Linked DNA regions of Homo sapiens. The protein of the gene in region 7 purifies or fractionates together with the protein of the main gene of each other region. This does not show direct contact. Each region holds a gene or a part of one and is shown on either strand. Other genes may lie near its edges.

Region 1 (3,500 bases), on a different chromosome or scaffold from region 7:
GACTTCAGTGAAGCCTGACATTTCATAGGAGCTTAATATTTCAGAGAAAGAGCATAACTGAGAGGCAAATTATTTCCTGCTCTTATCCCTCAATCTCAAGGAAATGGCTTTCTCTCATCCCACAGTAGTTATTGTCAGAACCACTAAATCCCCACAAGGACCAAAACTAATGTCAAAGCCGCAAAACCCAAATCCTTCACAAATGAGAAAAGCAAGCCTCAGCCAGGGCCGCACAGATTCTTGGAGTGCATACTGAGTGAGCAGCAGTCGAAGCCCCAGCTTTCCCTGTGGGACGCGGGTGGAGCCAATTCCTCTCCAAGATCCTGCTGTCATGAAGAACTTGGCCGGCTTCGTTTCTCTGCTGTTGTGTGGCCCCCTGGTGGGGATGTGGAGAACTGGATGACCCTGCGCAGCTTAGCTGGTCCCGCTCCTTATTACCCAGCATGGGAAGCCGGCCACCATGTCTTTGCCCTGGAACTTGGTATTCTCCAGTTGTTGGCAGGACCAGATATCATCAAGTAGATTTAGTGTCTTCCTCCATTTGAAGTGGTCAAGGGAGATTCATTCATGTGCATTTATTCATTTAACAAGTACTGAAAACCTGCATGATATGCTGAGTAAGGATACAGTGTAAGCGAGAGACAAAAACCTTGTTTCATGGGGCTTACACCAAAGAAAGGCAATGCAGTATAAAAGAAAAAGTACTTAAAACCGAAATGCTCAATTTCTAGTTCTATCTTGGGCCACTAATTCTCTGTGTGACTTGACCAAGTTCCTTAAATTCTCAAATTCCCTAATTTCTTCTAGTTGCAACTTCTTCATTATTCTAGTTTGTACAGTAGATGATTCTCCCTCATTGTAAATACAAAAGAGGCCAGGCATGGTGGTTCACACCTGTAGTCCCAGCTACTCAGGAAGCTGAGGTGGGAGCATCACTTGAGCCCAGGAGGTGGAGGCTGTGGTGAGCTATGATCATGCCACTTAACTCTAGCCTGGGCAACAGAGAAAGACCCTGTCTCAAAAAAAAAAAAAAGTACCAGAGAGAGAAAAAAAAGCCATTCCCTCCTATAGGTAGGGTTGTTTTGTTTTGTCTCTTGGGATATCTTAGAATAACAGTCTGTATACTTTAAACCAGTATGTCTCAACTAAGGGTGATTTTGTCTCCCAGGGTACATTTGGCAATGTCTGAGGTCATTTTCAATTGTTACAGCTTGGAGAGTGCTGCTGACGTCTTGTGGGTAGAGGCCAGGGATGCTGCGAAACACCCCATCATGCACAGGACAGCCACCCCCCCCAAAAAATAATTATTCAACCCAAAATGCTGTTGAGAGAAACCCTGCATTAAACTTTGAAAATATCCATCTTTTCCCCTCATTTCTCCATCAATCTCACCCAGAAGCTAAGACACGTGATTCCAAAATGAAGGGAATAGAGCTTTGGGAGTCACGCAGCTATAAAACATGCTTTGTATTTCTACACAAATTATTTCATCACTGTAGGTCATAGTGCCCTCTTCTGAAAGGTGGGGCTGGTGACCACCAACTGGAATGTTGTGAGAAGGACTTAACTAAAAGGACTGCCCTCAGCTGACCCGCAGCTCCTAGAGGAAAGCCGTATGGTGGCTATCTCTTGAACAGTGGCTTGATTCGGAATCTCTTGCCATCCCCTTACCCCCTTATTCTACTGCTGTGAAGGAGAGAAACGTCTTTTGTCTTCTTTGTTATGTGGGAAGCAGAATTTCTCAGGGTACCTTTCTATGCCTTTCCTTAAGTCTTCACCATTGCTATCATCACCACCTTTTAATTACTGACCTTTTTCTTCCTTTTTCCAGAAGTGCATGTGGAACCTCATAAGAAGCAGCTACATGTGACCCTGGCTTACCACTTCCAAGCCAGCCACCTACCCACCCTAGAGAAACTGGCCCAGAACATTGACGTCAAGCTAGGGTGTGACTGGGTGGCTACCATATTTTCTCGGGATATCCGATTTGCTAACCATGAGGTAATGTCTCACTGTGGTTCCAGAAGCTACCAGGTGCAGGGATGCAATCAGAATCAGCAGCTCGCTGCTGCAGGGAGATGGGTACCTACAGGGGAAAAATGGAGCAAGCACCTAACAGAGAGTCCGTTGGCTCAGGATTGTGTCCAGCCTCTGCTTGCCTCACTGGGAGGCTTCCAGCTTGCCTCCCTCCTCTCTGGGTCACAAGTGGTTCATCTGGGTAACATCCCCCTAGTTCTGTCTCCCCTGCCAATCCAACTCCAGCAAAAAAGAAATGAAATGGGAGAGAATAAATAAAAAATATATTGGAAAATTTTTAATATTATATAAATTTATGGTGTTAATGGAAGACATCATTTTGACCTTAGGTGAGTTGAAGAACATATAAATACCAAAGAAAACAAAACAAAAAACAAAAACACTTGCAAAGACATAATCAACAGATATTTGCTGTGTATCTGTATCATGCAAAGTACCATGGAGCATACTGGAATTTTTAAATGTTGTCCTGTCCTCAAGGAGCTTTGAGAACAGACACACATGAAAAGAAAACTCAAGTCACCTCTTGTGAGAGTTTCTGCACATCCCAGTGGGAGGCCTGAGTGAGAAAACTGAATTCCATCACAAGAAGAAAGATTGGTACACCCCTAGCACCCTTCCTTTGAGGGAATCAACATTGCCTTCTAGACAAGTATGTGACATCTTGGAAGCATAATATTGCCTTTTTTTTTTTTTTTTAAATGGAGTTTCATTCCTTGTTGCCCAGGCTGGAGTGCAATGGCACGATCTTGGCTCACTGCAACCCCTGCCCCTGGGGTTCAAGCGATTCTCCTGCCTCAGCCTCCCTAGTAGCTGGGATTACAGGCACCCGCCACCACACTGGGCTAATTTTTTGTATTTTTAGTAGTGCCGGGGTTTCACTGTGTTGGCCAGACTGGTCTTGATCTCAGGTGATCTGCACGCCTCGGTGTCTCAAAGTGCTGGGATTACAAGCGTGAGCCGCAGCACCTGGCCAATAGTGTCTTTTTCTATCCTGAAGGAGAAGCTGAGACACAAAAAACATTAGTGTCTTAGTAATTTAGGGCTAGAGATGAAGCAAGAGCCCATGTATTTTGACCAATAAAGAAGGGCAACCTGTCTGAAACAAAACTACATCATAGCCAGGCATGGTGGCTGTCACCTATGATCCCAGCACTTTGGGAGGCTGAGGCAGGAGTATTGCTTGAGACCAGGAGTTCCAAACCAGCCTGGGCAGCATAGTGAGACTGTATCTCTACCCACCCACAAAAGACCTCATCGTTTGTTAAAAATGTGCCTTCCAACTTAACTACATTTATTAAGCAATACTTATATTTGTTTCCCAATTTTTCAAACAGCCAAAGAACTGGTATTTTTGTTAGTTTACATAGCCTTTTAACATCTCTTTTAGACTTCTTTAAAAAACAAAACATGAAAAACAGTTAGAACCCCAGGGCTGGGAGCAGGCAAGCTCATTGTTTTGG
Region 2 (3,282 bases), on a different chromosome or scaffold from region 7:
TGTAGATTCATAGAAAATTGAAGAGGGAAGAATAAACCTGGAGAGACAAGGTGATGAAAATTCAAAGAGGTAGAGGTGTCCAGGTTACCCAGCTTGTCACACTGGCAGTGCCTTGCCTCTTAAAGGTTGCTTAAGTTTCTGTGATTTATGCCAGGAGTCCTCAACCCCTGGGCCACTGACTGGTACTGGTTCATAGCCTGTTAGGAACCAGGCCACCCAGGAGGAGATGAGCCGTGGGTGAGCAAGTGAAGCTTCATTGTATTTATAGCTGCTCCCCATCACTCACATTACTGCCCAAGCTCCACCTCCTGTCAGATAACTGGCAGCATTCAATTCTCATAGGAGCATGAGCCCTATTGTGAACTGTGCATCTGAGGGATCTAGGTTGCATGCTCCTTATGAAAATCTAATGCCTGATGATCTGTCACTGTCTCCCATCACCCCCAGATAGGACCATCTAGTTGCAGGAAAACAAGCTCAGGGCTCCTACTGATTCTGCATTATGACGAGTTGTATAATTATTTCATTGTATATTATAGTAATAACAGAAGTAAAGTGCACAATGATTGCAATGTGCTTGAATCATCCCGAAACCATCCATCCACCCTGCTGGTCTGTGGAAAAATTGTCTTCTATGAAACCGATCACTGGTGTCAAAAAGGCTGGGACCACTGGGTTATGCAGTTGCCAAGCTGTTGTTCTATTTTGGGCCGACATGCCCCACTCCCCACTCATCTTAGGCTGCTTTGTGGTAAAGAAAGCAAGAGTGTTTCCTCTGAGCTCCTGGTGGGCAGTGGGTCGTGATGGAAGCTTGCCATTTCTCTTCCAGATCCTCTGGACCTTCTCCATCTACCTGGAGTCCGTGGCTATCCTTCCGCAGCTATTTATGATCAGCAAGACTGGGGAGGCCGAGACCATCACCACCCACTACCTGTTCTTCCTGGGCCTCTATCGTGCTTTGTATCTTGTCAACTGGATCTGGCGCTTCTACTTTGAGGGCTTCTTTGACCTCATTGCTGTGGTGGCCGGCGTAGTCCAGACCATCCTATACTGTGACTTCTTCTACTTGTACATTACAAAAGGTATGTTGGGTGCGACCTGCGTTGTTTCTAGAGTGACGTGTTCTTTTAGGAGTGCCCTTGCCCAGCACTCTTCTAATCTGGCACTCTCTCATAAACTGGCTCCAGAGAAACACTTTCATGATTGGCCAATAACATTCTGGATCAGGATGTTGTCTTTTTAAATATAAGAACCCTTTTTCTTTTGCAATAGCTTTTCCTAAAGTGACACATTTTCACTGTAAAAGATTCATCTGGTGTTTCAGTGAACATTAACACCAGATACCTCTCTATGCATACACAGACACATGACTTAAACTGTACATTGCTGTTCTATACACTGCTTTTATCCCCTCACATTTTTCATGTCACTAGAAATCTACATAATTTTCAGTAGCCACAGAGTGTTTCATTATGTGCATGTACCATAATTTATTTACCCAGCCCCCATTCATGGGTGGTCAGGCCGTTACTGGTTTGCTGTTAAAATCCAGTCATTAAATCAGCATCCTTGTGTATATGTGTTTTTGCATTTGTATGAACATAGGACGTGTGAACTTTACAAATATTTGATGAAAGCTATCATCCTTGTTCAGAAAAAAAAAAACATTTATGCCAGGTGCAGTGGCTCACGCCTGTAATCGAGCACTTTGGGAGGCCGAGGCGGGCGGATCATGAGGTCAGGAGATCGAGACCATCCTGGCTAACACGTGAAACCCCGTCTCTACTAAAAATACAAAAAACTTAGCCAGGCGTGGTGGTGGGCGCCTGTAGTCCCAGTTACTCGGGAGGCTGAGGCAGGAGAATGGTGTGAACCTGGGAGGCGGAGCTTGCAGTGAGCCCAGATCGCGCCACTGCACTCCAGCCTGGGTGACAGTGCGAGACTCTCTCTCTCAAAAAAAAAAAAAAAAAAGATATTTACGCAAATGCACCCAAATGCATGTATATAGTTTTGAGGGGTTCAGGAGCCCCTGAAACCCAACCACAGATCCCAGGCTAAAAATCCAGCTATACAATAAAATTCCTAATGGTGGAATTGCTAGGTAAAAAGCATATATAGGTCGGGTGCGATGGCTCACGCCTATAATCTCAGCACTTTGGGAGGCCGAGATGGGTGGATCGTCTGAGGTCAGGAGTTCAAGACTAGCCTGACCAACATGGCGAAACCCCATCTCTACTAAAAATACAAAATTAGCCGGGTGTGGTGGCACATGGCCTGTAATCCCAGCTACTTGGGGGGCTGAGGCAGGAAAATCTCTTGAACCCGGGAGGCAGAGGTTGCAGTGAGCTGATATCACGCCATTGCACTCCAGCCTAGGGAACAAGAGCAAAACTCTGTCTCAAAAAAAAAAAAAAAAAAGAAAAAAAAGAGCATATATGTCTTATCTCTTTCCTTTTGTTTTTTTTGAGACCGAGTCTCTCTCACCCAGGCTAGAATGCAGTGGCTTGCTCTCAGCTCACTGCAACCTCTGCCTCCCAAGTTCAAGCGAGTCTGCTGTCTCAGCCTCCCGAGTAGCTGAGATTACAGTCGCGCACTACCATGCCTGGCTAATTTTGTTTTGTTTTGTTTTGTTTTGAGACTGAGTCTTGCTCTGTCACACAGGCTGGAGTGCAGTGGCGCAATCTCGGCTCACTGCAACCTCCACCTTGCAGCTTCAAGTGATTCTCGTGCCTTGACCACCCTAGTAACTGGGATTACAGGTGCGCACCACCACGCCCGGCTAATTTTTGTATTTTTAATAGAGACGGGGTTTCACCTTGTTGGCCAGGCTGGTCTTGAACTCCCAACCTCGTGATCCGCACACCTCAGCCTCCCAAAGTATTGGGATTACAGGCGTGAGCCACCACGCCTAGCTTTTTTTTTTTTTTTTTTTTTTTTTTTTTTTTTTTTTTTTTTGAGACAGAGTTTTGCTCTTGTTGCCCAGGCTGGAGTGCAATGGTACAATCTTGGCTCACCGCAACCTCCACCTCCTGTGTTCAAGCGATTCTCCTGCCTCAGCCTCCTGAGTAGCTGGGATTACAGGCATGCACCACCACGCCCAGCTAATTTTTGTATTTTTAGTAGAGATGGAGTTTCTCTATGTTGGTCAGGCTGGTCTCGAACTCCCGACCTCAGGTGATCCTCCTGCCTCAGCCTCCCCAAGTGCTGGGATTACAAGCATGAGCCACTGTGCCCAGCCTAATTTTTGTATTTTTATTAGAGATGGTGTTTCACCATGTTGGC
Region 3 (2,239 bases), about 27 Mb from region 7:
TGGACAGAGGTGTCCGGGGATCCCTGAGCCTGGCTGCACTCTCCCTCCTGGTTCTTTCCTTGCGTGCACACGATCAGCTATCGTTTACAAAGAGTCCTTGGTGTTGCCTGGTTGGCTGCCCAGGATGGGAGCTCCTGCCCCCATCGGACATGTAAACAAACCAAGGTCTGTCCAGTTCCAGCTGACAGGGCCTGCACCTCCGCCAGGGCTAGGCAGAAGTAGCATCAGAGCACAGGAGACCCGGGAGGAACCGAGAACCAGCGCTGCTCTTAACAGCTCCCAGCGGGGTGTGCCCAAGGCTTGCTGGGCACTCACAGGCAGGTCAGGCCACAGGAAAAGCTAACCAACCTTTATAAGGGAAAATAGGGGCCGGGAGGGCTCCTGCGCCCCCATGCTGACGTCCAAGATGCTCCGGATGCGCTTGACCTCACTGTTGGATAGGTTCCCCTTGATGGCCAGGATAGCGCTCAGGTGGCCTTTGCTGGCAAAGAGAGCATCCTGTCAGCCCAGCCTGTCACCCACACCCCTACTCACCAGCTCCCTGCACTCCCGGCCAGTGCCACAGGGCCCGACAGCCAACGCCCGGCCCACGAGGGGGCTGCACTTCACTCTCCCTCACCCATGCCCTCCACCTGATGGTCCCAAGAGCAGCCATGCCCCAGCCTGCTTCAGGCCTCCGCACCGGCTGTTCCCCTGCAATGTTCTTCCCAGGCCCTGAGATGACCGCCTCTTCCCACCCCTTAGGTCTCCGCTAAGATGTCCACCCCCAAAAGGCTTTCTTGTCTCTAAAGTCGGCACCTCCTATCATTCACAACCTTGGTTAAACCCTATTTACAACTTGTAATTGTCTGTTTCTTTGCCTGATTATGTCATTAGTATTGCTGGCCCTCAACAGAATGAGCTACTTAAGGGAGGACTGAGACCTGGCTTCCCTTGTACTTCATTGCATCCTGGTAACTAGAACAGAGGCTGACACCTAGCAGACTTCTCCATAATTGTTGGTGGCATAGGTAGATGGATGGTGGGTGGGTGAGCAGATGGATGAGAGCTAGATGGGTGGAGGGATGGGAGCATGGATGAGTGAGTAGATGCATGGGTGGATGGGTGGGTGGGTGAGTGGTTGAGTGGATGGATAGCTAAATGGGTGGAGGGGTGGATGGATGAGTAGATGGGTGGATGGGTGCTTACATGGGTAGGTGGATGAATAGATGGATGGATAGACGGGTGGGTGGGTGGGTGGGTGGATGGGTAGACAGGTGATGAGTGGGTGAGAAGATAGACGGATAGCCAGATGGGTGAAGGAATGGGTGGATGAGCAGATGGGTGCTTGTATGGTGGGTGAATGAATGAATGGGTGGAATGGATCAGACAGGGACTGGACTTGGCGAAGCTGGGGTCAACCCTGTCAAGACCCATTCAAACTTACCCTAACATGTCAGAGGACCCAGCCCAGGAAGAAACAATGTCCCTGGCCCACCAGAACTTCAGGCAGCCAAGGGCTAAGCCTCCACTCCCGAATATGAGCCCTGGTCCCAGAGCATAGGCCTAGGCCGCAGAGGCCCCCCAGGCTGGGTGAAGCTGGCCTCTCTGGTCTCAGTCTCCCCTGTGAGAGGCAGTGTCAGGTAAAGCTAAGAGTGTGGGCCATGCAGCCAGACACTAACTAGCCGTGTCACCTTGGACACATCCTGTGAGCTCTCCAGGCCTCCTCTGTGAAACGGGAATGGGAAGTATTGTCCTCGTAGTGCTGTGGTGAAGGCCACAAGAATGAGCCCCTGGTGAGGTTCACACAGTGACTGGCACGTGGGCAGCTGCCAGGATCTGGGTTCCCAATGCCAGCCCTGTGAGGCCTTGGCCACAGTGATGTGACAGTGGTCCTGAGGTGCCCCAGGTTCTCACCTGAAGTCAGGGTAGCAGGTGGCATAAGTGGCCACCTCAATCTTGATGGCACTGGGGTCCTGCAGGCGAATGATCTCGGCCAGCGTAGGGAGAGCAGGCTGCAGCCAGGTCGCCGGGGAGCCCTGCAGGAGTGGGTGTGGTTGGAGGGACCCAGGGGTCCAGAGGCTCGGGTCAGCGACTCGTTGGGCTTAGAGAGGCACCAGCGGCCTATCTCCGACCCTGAAAGGGCTAGGGGAGAAGAGGCAGCCATTTCAGAGGGGCTTGGGAGAGGTGGGCAGCGGCTTACGTGCTGGGTGCAGAAGTGCTGGATGGTGTCAGCATTGGCCAGGATGTACCCAGCCAG
Region 4 (2,242 bases), on a different chromosome or scaffold from region 7:
AGGGCTCAGCAGTCAGCCTGGGCGGGTCACAGTTCCGATACCCTCCAGGCTGTCTGGGAGGCGGCCTGGCTGTGGGACCAGTTCTCATGTGAAGCAATGAAGCCACTCTGAGCTTGGCCCCCTGCCCTGGCATGGGCACTGGGCTGCCTGTGTGAAACTCTTGTTTCTCCAGGTGCAAGACAAACCTGGCACTCTTTCTGGCTTCTCCATTCACTTGCCGGGGGCAGGTGGCCAAGCCTGGTTTCATCTCCTTGGGGGGGAATGGAATACTCTCCACATTCAACCCAAAAACAGCCCCAGCAAAGGGCTGACATGGGAGGGAGAGGGGCAGGGTGGCGCCACGCACCCACGGGCACCCAATGCTTTGACGCCGAGACCCAAGCATCTCTCTCAGACATCCCTTCTCATACCAGAAACAGAGCCCACGTATACCAGTCAGACCTGCAGTCAGGCCCATTCACGAGTCAGGCCCATTCACCAGTCAGAAACCACACAGCCACTTATTTGAACAGGGGAAGTTTAATATAAAGATGAACTCTACTCGGAGCATAGAGTTTAAAAAGAGTTCTACACAACACCCTAGGGATGAGGAAGAATGCCTCAGGGAAGAAAGCACAGAAAAGGAGGTGCCCTCCCGAGGCTGGGACTGAGACCTCCTCGCTGGAGAAGGTGTGGGAGGCCCCTGAGGGTGAAGTTCCCCGGGTTGCTCGAGCCAGAGTCTGCACAGTCATAGGGCAAGCAGAAAATTCTTTCGAGAGGGTGGGCGCTCACAGGGAATCGGGAAGCAGAGCCCACCTGCCTACACCTGAAAGGCCACAGCCGGTGCTGGGACCTCTCTGAGGTCTGCAGACTCCAGGCAGAGCACTCCTGGCAGCTGTGCAGCAGGAGCAGGAAGGAAACGACATGAAAGCCCCTTTCTCCCCAGTGTCCCAGTTCAACACCGTGCACGCTACCAAGGAGAAACGGCGCACGGGCCCCACCCACGACTGCAGAGCAGGCAGGGGAGGGGGATCTAGAGCTGAAAGGCAATACATGGATAACGCGCACGCCCCACTCCCACTTTTATTTAGCAAGAGTAAATGCAGCCTAATGACAGGGCGTGGGAAGACCTCCTGCTCACCAGTGTGGGCAGAGTGTAGCGTGGCCTGGGCTCCTAATACAGGTAAATTGTCTCCAAAGGACTAGTAAAGGTGACTGGGTCATCCTCCTGCCCCAGGGACACTGATTAGAGAAAATCCGTCTGTGCTGGCAATACGGCAGTGCTGGACACTCGGAATTCCCTTGAAGGCAAAAGCAAGGAACAGAGCGTGATTAGGTACTGGACACCTGCCAAGTGCTGGGCTCTCTCCAGTTTACAGATGAGGAAACTGAGGCTCCTCGAGTTGGAGCTGGGATGCCAGCCCCCATGGACCTGGCAGAACACGCTCTTGACAGCCCCACAGGGCTTCTCCCTAGGGCGTGCCCTTAGAAGATTCCAGGCAGCAGGCGGTAAGGCACTGCGGCGGTGTAGCGCTCCCAGTCCCGGCCGTACTTGCTGGCGCAGCGGTGCTCGTCCCGGAGGCAGCGGTGGGTCAGCAGGATGGCCATGTAGATGATGTAGAAGTAGGGCAGCAGGTGGCCGCCGCCACAGGCCAGGCAGTAGGCCAGGCTGCCCATCAGGTCGCCGACGTAGTTGAAGTGGCGGGCCACGCCCCAGAAGCCCGACACCAGCAGCTTGCTGTGGTGCCTCTGCCCATCGGCGGATGTGTAGGAGCACTCGATGACCTTGGGCTTCCTGCCCCAGATGAGGCAGCGCCCATCCGTGCGGCGGAACAGGTCCTTCTGGTGGTTGGCCACCCGGAAGATGTAGTAGCCCACCAGGCCCAGCAGCAGGACGCCCACGGCGTGCGGGGTGGACAGCTGCACGGGGTGGTACACCAAGTACAGACCCTGGGGGGCGAGGGGGAAGGGGTCAAGCGGTGCTTTGCCCAGGGAGAGGACAGGAGTGTGGGCTCGGGGGCCCAGCGGCCTGGGGTCAAACCCCAGCTCTGCCTCTGACACACGCCTTGCCTCCGTGTTCTCTTCTGTGAATAAAAGCACCAACCTTGAGGGCTGTTGTGGTCATTAAATGAGTAACTCTACCTGCCTTCTACCTGTCTGTGTGTGTATGTGTGTGTGTATATATACCCCCTATATATATGACATATAGCATAAACATCAAATATGTAACAGTATTAAAAATATAATCTGAATTTAATATTGT
Region 5 (3,500 bases), on a different chromosome or scaffold from region 7:
CCTGAGGACTCAGGAGGTAACTATACAGCTTGCTTAAAAGGAGGTGATCTCACACTTTCCCTCCTAGCTCTCAATAGGCTTCAAGTGTCAATGAATTCACCAACAGATATCATGAAAATAATTTTTATTTTAACAAGAAGGTATTTAGGCAAACAAGTTGATAATTACACACAGAAGCTGAAATTAAGTTGAGTGCTTAGTAAATAAGAAAGCAAGCTAAAACAAGACTGAAGAAATCCCATAGCGCCTAAGGCAATATTTATAATCAATAAGGAATAAATCCTACATAAACTACCTTGTCAACAATATATTTTTCACTAGCACTAATGCTTTGTAGCGGGTGATACTTCTTTAATACTCAATATTAAATAAGGGTCACTTCTTACCGGAACTGCTGCCATCAGTGTTGGTTTCAACATGGATGTATCCCCTTTGCTTCCTTTTTTAATTTTTGAAGACTACAAAATAAGAAAAAGTGATCCATATAAAGTGATCCTTATTTTTAAAATTCAATGGTATTCTTAGATCAAAAAGCCTATTATAAATTATTTTAATGTACTTACAGTCTAAGAAGCACTTAAAAGGCTAAAGCTCATTTTAAAATGAACCATCGCTCTCGCAATATACTGTCATACTGACTGAAAAAAATGCATTACAATTCACTATGATTTTTTAGTATTTCAAGTCACAGACACTGAACTTACCTGATCTGCTAAAGTCTGTGGTGAAGAGTAACCAATGCGGCATCCGTGAGAAAGACAGACAAGCTCAGCACTTAATTCTAGAACATGGGCCAGAGGCAAATATCCAATGTAGACATCTTCCTCTCTAAAAGAAAAGGGAGACGTCAGAAACAAAAGTCAGGTGTCGTCTATGCCAAAAGTGCCCTATAATGGGAGCAAGCTTGAAGGCACATGGAAGGGCCCCAGGGCATCAATTTGCTGGTCAAGTGTGTATGTGTTTGTGAGAGAGAGAGAGAGACAGGTGAAAACAGAGGATAGGCAGATGCTGGGGATGGGAGGGAAAAAGAATTACAGCTCAACCCAAAAGCAAGGAGGCGCACACTTGCAGGAAGGAATGCTGTTTCCCGTCCTACTTAAAAGCACTCAGGAATTATAAGCGTTGCTGAAGCAAAGTACTGAGGCACAAGAAACAGTGGCTTAAACAAATAATAATACAGGGTTCTTTTGAAGAACAGAAGAAATCATCCAAGGAGGAAATGGTCTTTACATCTAGTGGGTTGCCAACCAGAAGAGTTAAAGTAGAATCCACAACTATCTGCCAGAAATTTTACAGATAAGACTCTTGTTGTGGGAATTGGATTACATAATAAATTAGATCTTAATATACAGAAAATGTGTAAGTATTTGTATATACTTCAAGAGCTGCCCCCATAACCAAAATATAGAAGGTAACTGAGGCAAACCTGTAAGAAAATTGTTGCACTTAATTTTTTCTGAAATGTATGCATACGTAAGAGACATTCCTCCATCCCCAAGTTCAGTACCATAGCAATTACGTGAGTGTGTGTGTGCGTGTATGTTTGTAATTTCTGTGCATAAAAGCATCAAAAATATCCAACCACTGTACCCTATCGGTCATCAGAATACCAATTGCATCTCTGGCAATGTTTCCTTGACAGTCCCTCAAACTTCCATCTGGTTTCCTCCATCAGTCTCTTCCCCACTCCACTCTACCTTCCACTGCTACCACTGGAGTTTGTATTAACAAGAAAAATCAGAGACCAAATACTGAAGCTCAACAAATACTTAGTGGATAAATTAAGTTACCTGTTCACCTGAATTGTATTTAGATATAAAAAAAACTACAGCAGCAAATACAAGCTGATTAAAACAAAGGATTTACAACTATACAAATTTAAGTTCTGTACTTTTTAAAATATATCTATATGATATATTTTCAACCTCACAACTATAACTATTTTGCCATTAATTTTAATGTCCTTTTTTATTTTTTAAGGAAATGCCTACTACAAACAGACTCTGAGGGACTAATTTAGCCATATATTAATAAAATGACACAAATGCTAACATTATAACAGACATAAATACTTAACTACTCAATGTTACTTTACTATGACATACCCTAGTTCTGGAATCCTTTCTGCCATCCCAGTTATACCAGCAATAATGTTACTATGTGAGATCATGACTCCCTTTGGAAGTCCTGTGGATCCACTTGTGTACATGATTACTGCAATATCTGAGGGCAATGGTTTGCTATGAGGTTGGTTTTCTGCATTGAAGAGAAAAAACACACACATACACTTTCATGAGATTCAGCTGTATCAACAATTTCTTTTCATTATCATCAAATAAATAACTCAATCAAATTGAGTTAATTTAACTCAATTCAACAAATATTAGTTATACTGAGATCAACAAAACAGATCAAGTCCCTGCACGTATGGGAGATATATTCTATTGAGATATACAAACAGATTAACCTATGAAGAAAACTGAAGCAAGACAAGGTGAGAAGATGACAATAGATGCTATTTGGATGGAAAAGCCTGGAGACCGTCTCTGTAGAGTTTCGTTTAGCAAAGGCCTGAATAAAGTGAGGAAGGGAGCCATGGAAACCCTGGAACTGGGAGAAGAGTGTTCTAATTAGAAGGAAATAAGCAAATGCAAAGACCCAAAGGTAGGAATGTGCTCAGCATATCTAAAGACCAGCAAGGAGTGTGGCTGGAACAGAGTGAGCAAGAGGAAGAGTGGCAAGAAACAATAGTCAAGTGGCTATCAGGGACCACACATAGGACCTCAAAGGCCACGGGAAGAACTCTGGATTACGTTCTGGATGTAAAGCAATGTTGTTTTGAACAGGAGTATGTTATTATCTGTGAAAAAAAAGATCACTTTGGCTGCTGTGTGGCTAACTAACTTTACAAGGGGAAAAAAGGTATCAGGGAGACAAGATTATCCCAGTAATTCAACTAAGAAATAAAGGTAGCTTTGGACTAGAGTATCTAGGTGTTTGCTAAAAACTATTCACTGCTTCAGAATGGTGACTAACTTGGTTACACTCAGAGTCCTGCATTAAAACACGATGTGAACCATTTGAAATCAGAAGAGTACCAGCCTAAGGACAACAGCTGAGAAGCTATAGAGGTGGCACAGCAGAAGAACAAAGAGAAATAGGTCATGGTTGGCATTGCTGATATGTCTGAACCACTCCCAGAACTACTCTACATGTGAACTTCTAAATGAGTGTGAAAAAATTATTTAAATGTACTCCCAATAGAATACCCTTCCTCTCCTGTCAGTCAAGATACATTTCTTAAATAATGTTTACACTTGGAAGTCTTTACTTCCAAATCAGCCCTTCACTCCTTCAATGCACAGCACCCTTCTCCAACACCACCACTTCTTGGAAATTACAATCCTTGTGTCATCTGACCTCTGCATGCAGCCCCTGATCCTGCTGATGACTCACCAAGATCTCCTTTCCCTTGGCTTCCAGGAACCACATACTACTAG
Region 6 (3,387 bases), on a different chromosome or scaffold from region 7:
TAATGTGTAAAATGATTCCTATTATTCAAGGTTTTTTTTTAATGAAAATAAAATATTTGATTTTCTAGAAAATGGTTTCACTATGAAACTAAAGGTCGTTTGCTTTTGGTCTGTCTTATCACTTTAATATAATTTCAACTTTCTAAGTGGCATAGATTCATAAATCATGAGGTTTCCTTATTTCTGACACTGATTAGGCCTCATTGCCTAAGCAAGGTTCTGGCTAGGTAATCCTGACAGATCACCGATCCGATTCCAAAGTTAATTATGGTTCCAATTTATCAGCTAGCTTTATGACTTTGGGCAACTTCTCAAGGCTTTGTCTGCATCATCAGTGTTTTTCATTTGCACCACCTTCCATGTAACTCTCAGGCTTCAACCAGAGCAACTGTTTTTGGTTTAACATGCTGAACTGCTACATAATATTTTGCCTGAACAAAGGTCTTTATCACTAACAGAGAACCATTAGACTAAATTATCTTTAAGCACAGTCATTAGAATTTTGATTGTAAATGTTTTAATAGAAATACACAATCTTTCACTTTCTCAGACAGCAATAAAGGGGTTTGTAACAATCACTAAGAATACAGAATTTTGCCACGAGGATGCAGCATAATCTACTGCAAAGCTGATCTGCCCAATTACACGTAGTCAGCTGCAAGAATATCAGAAATCAATACAAACAAGTATTGACAGGTGTTACAGACATGCAAAATATCCTTCAATGCAACGAATTTTTAAGAAATCAGCTAGCCTATATTAATCAGATGTTTTAGGTCAAACCAAGTTTCCATCTTGGGCTCAGTGAAATAGTATTAACTCATTGAGTCTCCTTTCCCCCAGGAATGTTGGGAATGGCAGAACAGAAAGAGCTATCACTCCTTAAATTCTTTTATGCAAGTGTTACTCCAACACTTATTTTACTTGGTTTACTTGGAATGTATGAGAGGAAACTGATGTTTTTTACAATGGCCAACTGTATGTCTAAATTTTCAGTTCTCCTTTTTGTGAGTTTCCTGCCAGAAATCCTTGTTAAAGGATCAGCGGGTGTTCACCCCGAAGTTCTTGCTGTTTTCAGTGTCCTACTGCAGACAGGTTTAAAAAGCCAACTGAACAGCAGCAGAATGAAGTATTTTTGAGGTCTATTCAAAAATGTACAGTCCCACCACTCACTAGAACAAGTACACAAGTAAATGGACTCAGCCAGTGCAGGAGATGGAAGGCTGCCATTTTTTATGTTTGTGCACAGCCTTACAGTTTGGAGGTGTGTTTGGCCTACTCTAATATTTCTAGTTTGTCAAAGGCTGTACACTGTTACTGCCAGTTTGACCTACATACTGTGTTCCCTTTGGATCCCTGCTACCATTTGGACCTCGTGTGTGTGTGTGTGTATGTGTGTTTGTGTGTGTGTGGTTTGGTTTGGTTTGAGACAGGGTCTTGCACTGTCACCCCAGCTGCAGTGCAGTGGCACAATCTCGGCTCACTGCAGCCTTGACCTCCTGAGCTCAGGATCCTCCCATCTCAGCTTCTTGAGTAGCTGGGACAACAGGTGTGTGCCATCACACCCAGCTAATTTTTTTATTTTTTGTAGAGATAGGGGTCTCACTACGTTGCCCAAGCTGGTCTTGAACTCCTGGCTTCAAGCGATGCTCCCACCTAGGTGTCCCAAAGTGCTGGGATTACAGGTGTGAGCCACATTCCTGGCTGAGTTTGGAACTTGTAATCTCATTGTTTTCTAAATAATGTTTCATTTTTCTTCAGTGTTGAAAATAGTTGATTTACTTAAGAATGGCATGATCATGATGTTCCAAGATTCTGATTAGTTTCTTTCAAAGCATTCTGCGCCTCTTCAATGCCCACACTGCTGAGCACTATAATAATAGATGTTGTTAGGCCAAAGGATGTCAGATGTAAAGTATGTTCTCTAGCCCCACTCTTAGAAATGTTTTATCAATGACTCAGTCCACTTGATTTTCAAAAAGTCAATGCCATCCCATTAAACAAGTAACCCCTTAGGTACAGAATAATTAATTCCTGCCTGAGTCACTTTAACAGCCTTCTATAGAGTGACATAGTCTTGCTTTTTTTCACAAGCAATAGCTGAAAAGAACAAATCTCAACTGTAAGAACTGTCAGTACATTGTAGGGATAAAGCACTTTTTGAAAAAAAAATCTCTGGCATGTATTAGACAGACTGAACATGAGATAGGGTTGGGGTGGGCTGAGCCTTTTGGTGTCATTAACTGAATACACAAGAATGAACCTCTCATCAGATATCAGGAATCCATGTCATGCAAGTACTACAATAAGATAACAGTAAATTCAGGAATGTTACTGGGGAAAAGGAAGATAGCCTCACTGAGAATTTAATCATTTAACATTAAAAAAACTTTTACATTGGTTCAAGAAGGTAAAACTGTAAGAATCAGATTAGGCTCAAACTGGCAAGAAGCCATCTAAATCTTTCTTTTTAGTGGATCTTTTTCTTTTTTTGTCCATAGCGCCGTCTGCGCTGTTTATAAAGGTGACGAAAATTTATGTATAAACCTGAAAAAGAAAAGAGGTCAATTAGAAATTAGAGTCTTTGTCTATTTATAACCAGAAGCTCTTGTGGCAGGGACAGTATCTAGCTGTCGTCATATTCCACAGCAAAAAGCTTATTGCAGCGGCTCAGGAAGGAGTACAATTTAGAACAAATTAACAATACAATAGACACAAAGCAATTTTTCCCCAGTGGGTTTATTTATTTATTTATTGCGACAGGGTCTCATTCTGTCACCCAGGCTGGAGTGCAGTGGCACAATCTCAGCTCACTGCAACCTCCGCCTCCTGGGTTCAAGCAATCCTCCTGCCTCAGCCTCCTGAGTAGCTGGGATTACAGGCGTCCACCACCATGCCTGGCTAATTTTTTGTATTTTTAGTAGAGGTGGGGTTTCACCATGTTGGTCAGGCTAGTCTCAAACTCCTGACCTCAAATGATCTGCCCAGCTTGGCCTCCCAAAGTACTGGGATTACAGGCGTAAGCCACCACACCCAGCCTCCCAGTGAGTTTAAAACATTTTTTTCTCTTATAAAATTTTCAAACACGCAAAAGATTAAATCATTATACAGGGAACATCTAGATTTACTGCTTTTTACTATATTGGCTATATCACATCCCTATTCATCTATCCCTCCAGCCATCTCATTTTTTATGCACTTCAGTGTTAAGTTGCAGATATCAATACACCTCACCCCCCTAATTCTTCAGGTAGGTATAGTTCAATATTCTTTCTTTCTTTTACAGTAAAATTTACAATGAAATGCACAAATCTAAAGTGCAGAAACAACCTAATTTTTAATTCAAGCCTACTCAAGAACATGGCCAGGCGTGGTGGCTCACGACCG
Region 7 (3,500 bases):
GAACAGGCAAGGGGAAGTCAGAACAATGGTTACTTAATGGAATGATGATTTAGAGCCCATTCATGCCTGGGGCTATTTTCTGGCTGTTTCTTTGTTAGGATGTTCAGCTACTAAATTTCAGTCCCTGAGAAGAAGGAAGTTTCCTAGAGCAACTGAAAGCAAAATTACTTTGTTTACTGAATGAGTGGAGAAAACTCCTTTAAGTGCACATTGCCCTAAAGGAACTTTGGGATGCTAAGGACACTACCCCCCACCCCTCTGCTGCCCCAGGTGTTTTCAGTTCAGGACTCCAGCCCTGGAGGGCAAGGATGCTGTGAGTTCACTGAGTGAGCCCACAACTCCTCATTTTTGTCAGCAATGTCTTTTTCAACCCCACAACCTGGTGTATTTGTACCTGGTGCTAAACGTTTTTTAGTCGGGGAGAGGGGGAGTCTACTCAGCAGCCCACCCAGGCTTCCTGTTTAAAGGTAATTCCCCTGGTCAGGTGCGGTGGCTCACCCCTGTAATCCCAGCACTTTGGGAGGCCGTAGCCCTTGAGGTCAGGAGTTCAAGATCAGCCTAGCTACCATGGCGAAACCCCATCTCTACCAAAAATACAAAAATTAGCCAGGTGTGGTGGCACGTGCCTGTAATTCCAGCTACTCGGGTGGCTGAGGCACAAGGATCGCTTGAACCCAGGAGGTGGAGGTTGCAGTGAGCTGAGATTGCACCACTGCACTCCAGCCTGAGTAACAGAGTGAGACTCCATCTCAAAAGAAAATTTAAAAAATGTAATTCCCCTATTGGGAATACGGAAACTGTTGGAAGTCTGTGTCCCACCCCTCAATGGATATCTGAGAAGTACATGTTCTCCTTCTCTCTGCTCTCTGGAGGTCAAGGCATGGACCCGTGACACAGGCTCAGCCAAGTGCACCATCAAACGGAGGCACAAGGACAGAGCGAAGGTGAGGACTGATCAGACCAGCAGCGCCTCCCCAGCAGAGTGTAGGCAGCCCCTGGCCAGTATGTCCTGGCTACTGGGTTTCCTGCTCCTGGGCTCTCCAGGGATTCTCCTGGTTCTTGTCTGGTTTCTAAATGTACTCTTTGAACCTCCTGATAGGCTTCCAATAAACTCCCCTTCTGCCTAGAAGGTCAGGTTTTGTAACTGACATTTGTTGTTGACTTCTCCAGGAGCAGAATCTGAGACAAGGCTGTGCATGCGAGCAGTTTCCAAGGAGGGAAGAAAGCCAATAACAAATGTGTTCCTGAGGACAGTACTGCTGTGGGCAACTGAGGCTCCCAGCTACCGGCTGCTTTGGCGCTTCTTGCCTGCCTCCCAGGTCCAGGCTGAGCAGACTCTGGTGGCCAAAGAAAGCCTAGGCGTCAGATCAGCACACACACACACACGCACGCATGCACACGTACACACACACACACACAAACAGACAGTGCTGAGTAGGTGTGGGCAGGAGCAGTCTCCGCTGTCTTCCTCCTCAAGTGTGGTCTGCAGGCCAGCATCATCACCATCATTTGAGGCTTGTTAGATGCCTCAAAATCTCAGGCCTGGCCACAGAGGAATCAGACAAGGTGATTTGCACGGACAACAGAGTTTGAGGAGCACTGCACTAAGGCATCCTAGCAAACGCAGCTGTACCATCAACTTCTGCCTGTACCTTGGACCCTAAAGGGACAGCTAGATGCCATCCAGCTCCAGACCTGAACCTATGTGCTGCTAGCACTTTGGCTCACATTTGCTCCCTCACCCCCTGCAAGCCCCTTCAGTGACAGCATAAGGAGCAGACACAAACACAGGAAGGATGATTCTTCCTGTAAAAGTCTTTTGGGAAAAGTTCCCTGTCTAGAAAAGCTTTCTGACTCTATCCTGTGACATGTCTACATAGAAGCCTCCTCTGTTCACTATACCCAGGCCAAACCAAACCCTCCACCAAGTTCTGCTTCCCCTTGGAATGGTGACAGGACCGAAAGTGAAAACGGTCCACCTCATCCATAAGAGACAGTAAGGGCCCCCACTTACTGAGCACCTACTATATGCCAGGATCTTAAACATATACTCTCCTTGAGTCCAGGACAAGCCCCTTCCCCACTTTACTGACCTTCTCTCCTAGATACCACTGGAATGAACTCTCGCTTCCCATCCAGCCTGCTTCCCGGCAAGCAGCTGTCAATCAGAGTGAGGCATGCTCAACACAAAATAAAAAGAGGTGTCTGTCCCTCGGCAAGGCAAGGAGATGGGCAGCTGCCACCTCTGCCGATGTCTCCATCTGGGATGTTCTGTGTCCTGATATAGGGCCTGACCTTTCATGGATGTTCAGGAAAGACTTGATGAATACAGGGGTGGATGTACCTCTGTCCTCCTCATCCCCATGCCAGGCTGGGGGCTTCTTCATGGGCTCCCAGAGCACACTGGGCTTCCCCTACTGACTAGGCACCCGTTAAGGCCAGGGGCGGCTCACAGTCCTGCCCCAAAGTCTGTCATGGTACCCAAGATGCAGCATGTGCTTAGAAAATGGGATTATTATGGTTATTATCATCATCCTTATTATTACTGTTCCCCAGCATTGCATCCAAGTTTTTGGTAAATCACATGAATAATGATAATGATAACAGCATAATTTGTAAAGGACTCTCTGTATGTATTACCCTACTTAACCCACAAAAATATAAGGCAGGTGCTATTATCCTCATTTTACAAATAAGAAAAACTGAGGCTCAGAGAGATTCAGTGATTTCCCCAATAAAAGACCCAAGCTTTTTGCCATTCCATGGTATGACCTCCCAGCGCACAGCAAATGTTAAATTCTCCTCTAAATTTTCTCCTCCTGATCTTTACAGCATAGTGGTCAATGGCTCCAATCAATACGTGTATCAATTATCAGATTACGCTGTTAAAAAAACAGTAGCCTGTTGGGTTTAATTATGCACAAACTGACACCTGATGTGAAATGTGTCTGTTCCCCTTGCTTCCTGTCTGCTCTTCTGAGCCTGCCCTAAGCACAGCCCACAATCACTGCAGCCCATGGGCTCGATAATGAAGGTCCCATGCCCATCTCTGTCCCTTACGGGTTATTTCAGGTTATTTGGCCTTGGACAAGTGGGCTTCAGCTGCATCTTCAGGTCTGGGGAAGGAGGCGATGGTAAAACCAACTCTGCTCAAGGTAGATGGCTTTTGTGACAATTGTATGACTTAATGATGAGAAAATGCTTGGTAAGCTGGAAAGCAGTTCCAGTAGGCTGGGTGAGGCCATCTCTTCTACCACCCTCCTGCCAACCCATAGCACTTCAACATTCATCTGATACCTCACAGGCCACCTCATGCTGGTTTCCCTTTATACCCATCAGCTCTTCGATTCGATGGGTTCTTAGAGGACAGGACCCTGGCTTGCTCTATTTCTCCCCTGCTCTGGCACTGCCTCACACTCAGGACTTGCTAGGGCCATTTAGAGTGGGAGGGTCCTGTGACACAGACCTGTGCACCCCTAGCCTGGGGTTGGGGAAGATGG

The links.
Region 1: the proteins of ESRRB (region 7) and UBASH3B purify together in Homo sapiens (affinity purification with mass spectrometry, with the first as the bait; one large-scale study listed by BioGRID). This does not show direct contact.
Region 2: the proteins of ESRRB (region 7) and KDELR2 purify together in Homo sapiens (affinity purification with mass spectrometry, with the first as the bait; one large-scale study listed by BioGRID). This does not show direct contact.
Region 3: the proteins of ESRRB (region 7) and TNFAIP2 purify together in Homo sapiens (affinity purification with mass spectrometry, with the first as the bait; one large-scale study listed by BioGRID). This does not show direct contact.
Region 4: the proteins of ESRRB (region 7) and DHCR7 purify together in Homo sapiens (affinity purification with mass spectrometry, with the first as the bait; one large-scale study listed by BioGRID). This does not show direct contact.
Region 5: the proteins of ESRRB (region 7) and ACSL3 purify together in Homo sapiens (affinity purification with mass spectrometry, with the first as the bait; one large-scale study listed by BioGRID). This does not show direct contact.
Region 6: the proteins of ESRRB (region 7) and HACD3 purify together in Homo sapiens (affinity purification with mass spectrometry, with the first as the bait; one large-scale study listed by BioGRID). This does not show direct contact.

The regions. Positions count from the first base shown.
Region 1 is NC_000011.10:122,781,222-122,784,721, forward strand, and holds part of UBASH3B (ubiquitin-associated and SH3 domain-containing protein B), read left to right. Parts: intron 1-1,831; coding exon 1,832-2,001; intron 2,002-3,500. UniProt on the Homo sapiens protein: Interferes with CBL-mediated down-regulation and degradation of receptor-type tyrosine kinases. Promotes accumulation of activated target receptors, such as T-cell receptors and EGFR, on the cell surface.
Region 2 is NC_000007.14:6,463,871-6,467,152, reverse strand, and holds part of KDELR2 (ER lumen protein-retaining receptor 2), read left to right. Parts: intron 1-829; coding exon 830-1,082; intron 1,083-3,282. UniProt on the Homo sapiens protein: Membrane receptor that binds the K-D-E-L sequence motif in the C-terminal part of endoplasmic reticulum resident proteins and maintains their localization in that compartment by participating to their vesicle-mediated recycling back from the Golgi.
Region 3 is NC_000014.9:103,133,461-103,135,699, reverse strand, and holds part of TNFAIP2 (tumor necrosis factor alpha-induced protein 2), read right to left. Parts: coding exon 2,183-2,239; intron 2,019-2,182; coding exon 1,897-2,018; intron 482-1,896; coding exon 340-481; 3' UTR 1-339. UniProt on the Homo sapiens protein: May play a role as a mediator of inflammation and angiogenesis.
Region 4 is NC_000011.10:71,433,911-71,436,152, forward strand, and holds the end of DHCR7 (7-dehydrocholesterol reductase), read right to left. Parts: intron 2,064-2,242; coding exon of another isoform or gene 1,930-2,063; coding exon 1,465-1,929; 3' UTR 1,281-1,464; coding exon of another isoform or gene 1,200-1,280; 3' UTR 501-1,199; downstream 1-500. UniProt on the Homo sapiens protein: Oxidoreductase that catalyzes the last step of the cholesterol synthesis pathway, which transforms cholesta-5,7-dien-3beta-ol (7-dehydrocholesterol,7-DHC) into cholesterol by reducing the C7-C8 double bond of its sterol core.
Region 5 is NC_000002.12:222,920,036-222,923,535, reverse strand, and holds part of ACSL3 (fatty acid CoA ligase Acsl3), read right to left. Parts: intron 2,257-3,500; coding exon 2,106-2,256; intron 829-2,105; coding exon 705-828; intron 459-704; coding exon 387-458; intron 1-386. UniProt on the Homo sapiens protein: Acyl-CoA synthetases (ACSL) activates long-chain fatty acids for both synthesis of cellular lipids, and degradation via beta-oxidation.
Region 6 is NC_000015.10:65,575,463-65,578,849, reverse strand, and holds the end of HACD3 (very-long-chain (3R)-3-hydroxyacyl-CoA dehydratase 3), read right to left. Parts: intron 2,548-3,387; coding exon 2,471-2,547; 3' UTR 501-2,470; downstream 1-500. UniProt on the Homo sapiens protein: Catalyzes the third of the four reactions of the long-chain fatty acids elongation cycle. This endoplasmic reticulum-bound enzymatic process, allows the addition of two carbons to the chain of long- and very long-chain fatty acids/VLCFAs per cycle.
Region 7 is NC_000014.9:76,477,137-76,480,636, reverse strand, and holds part of ESRRB (steroid hormone receptor ERR2), read right to left. Parts: intron 1-3,500.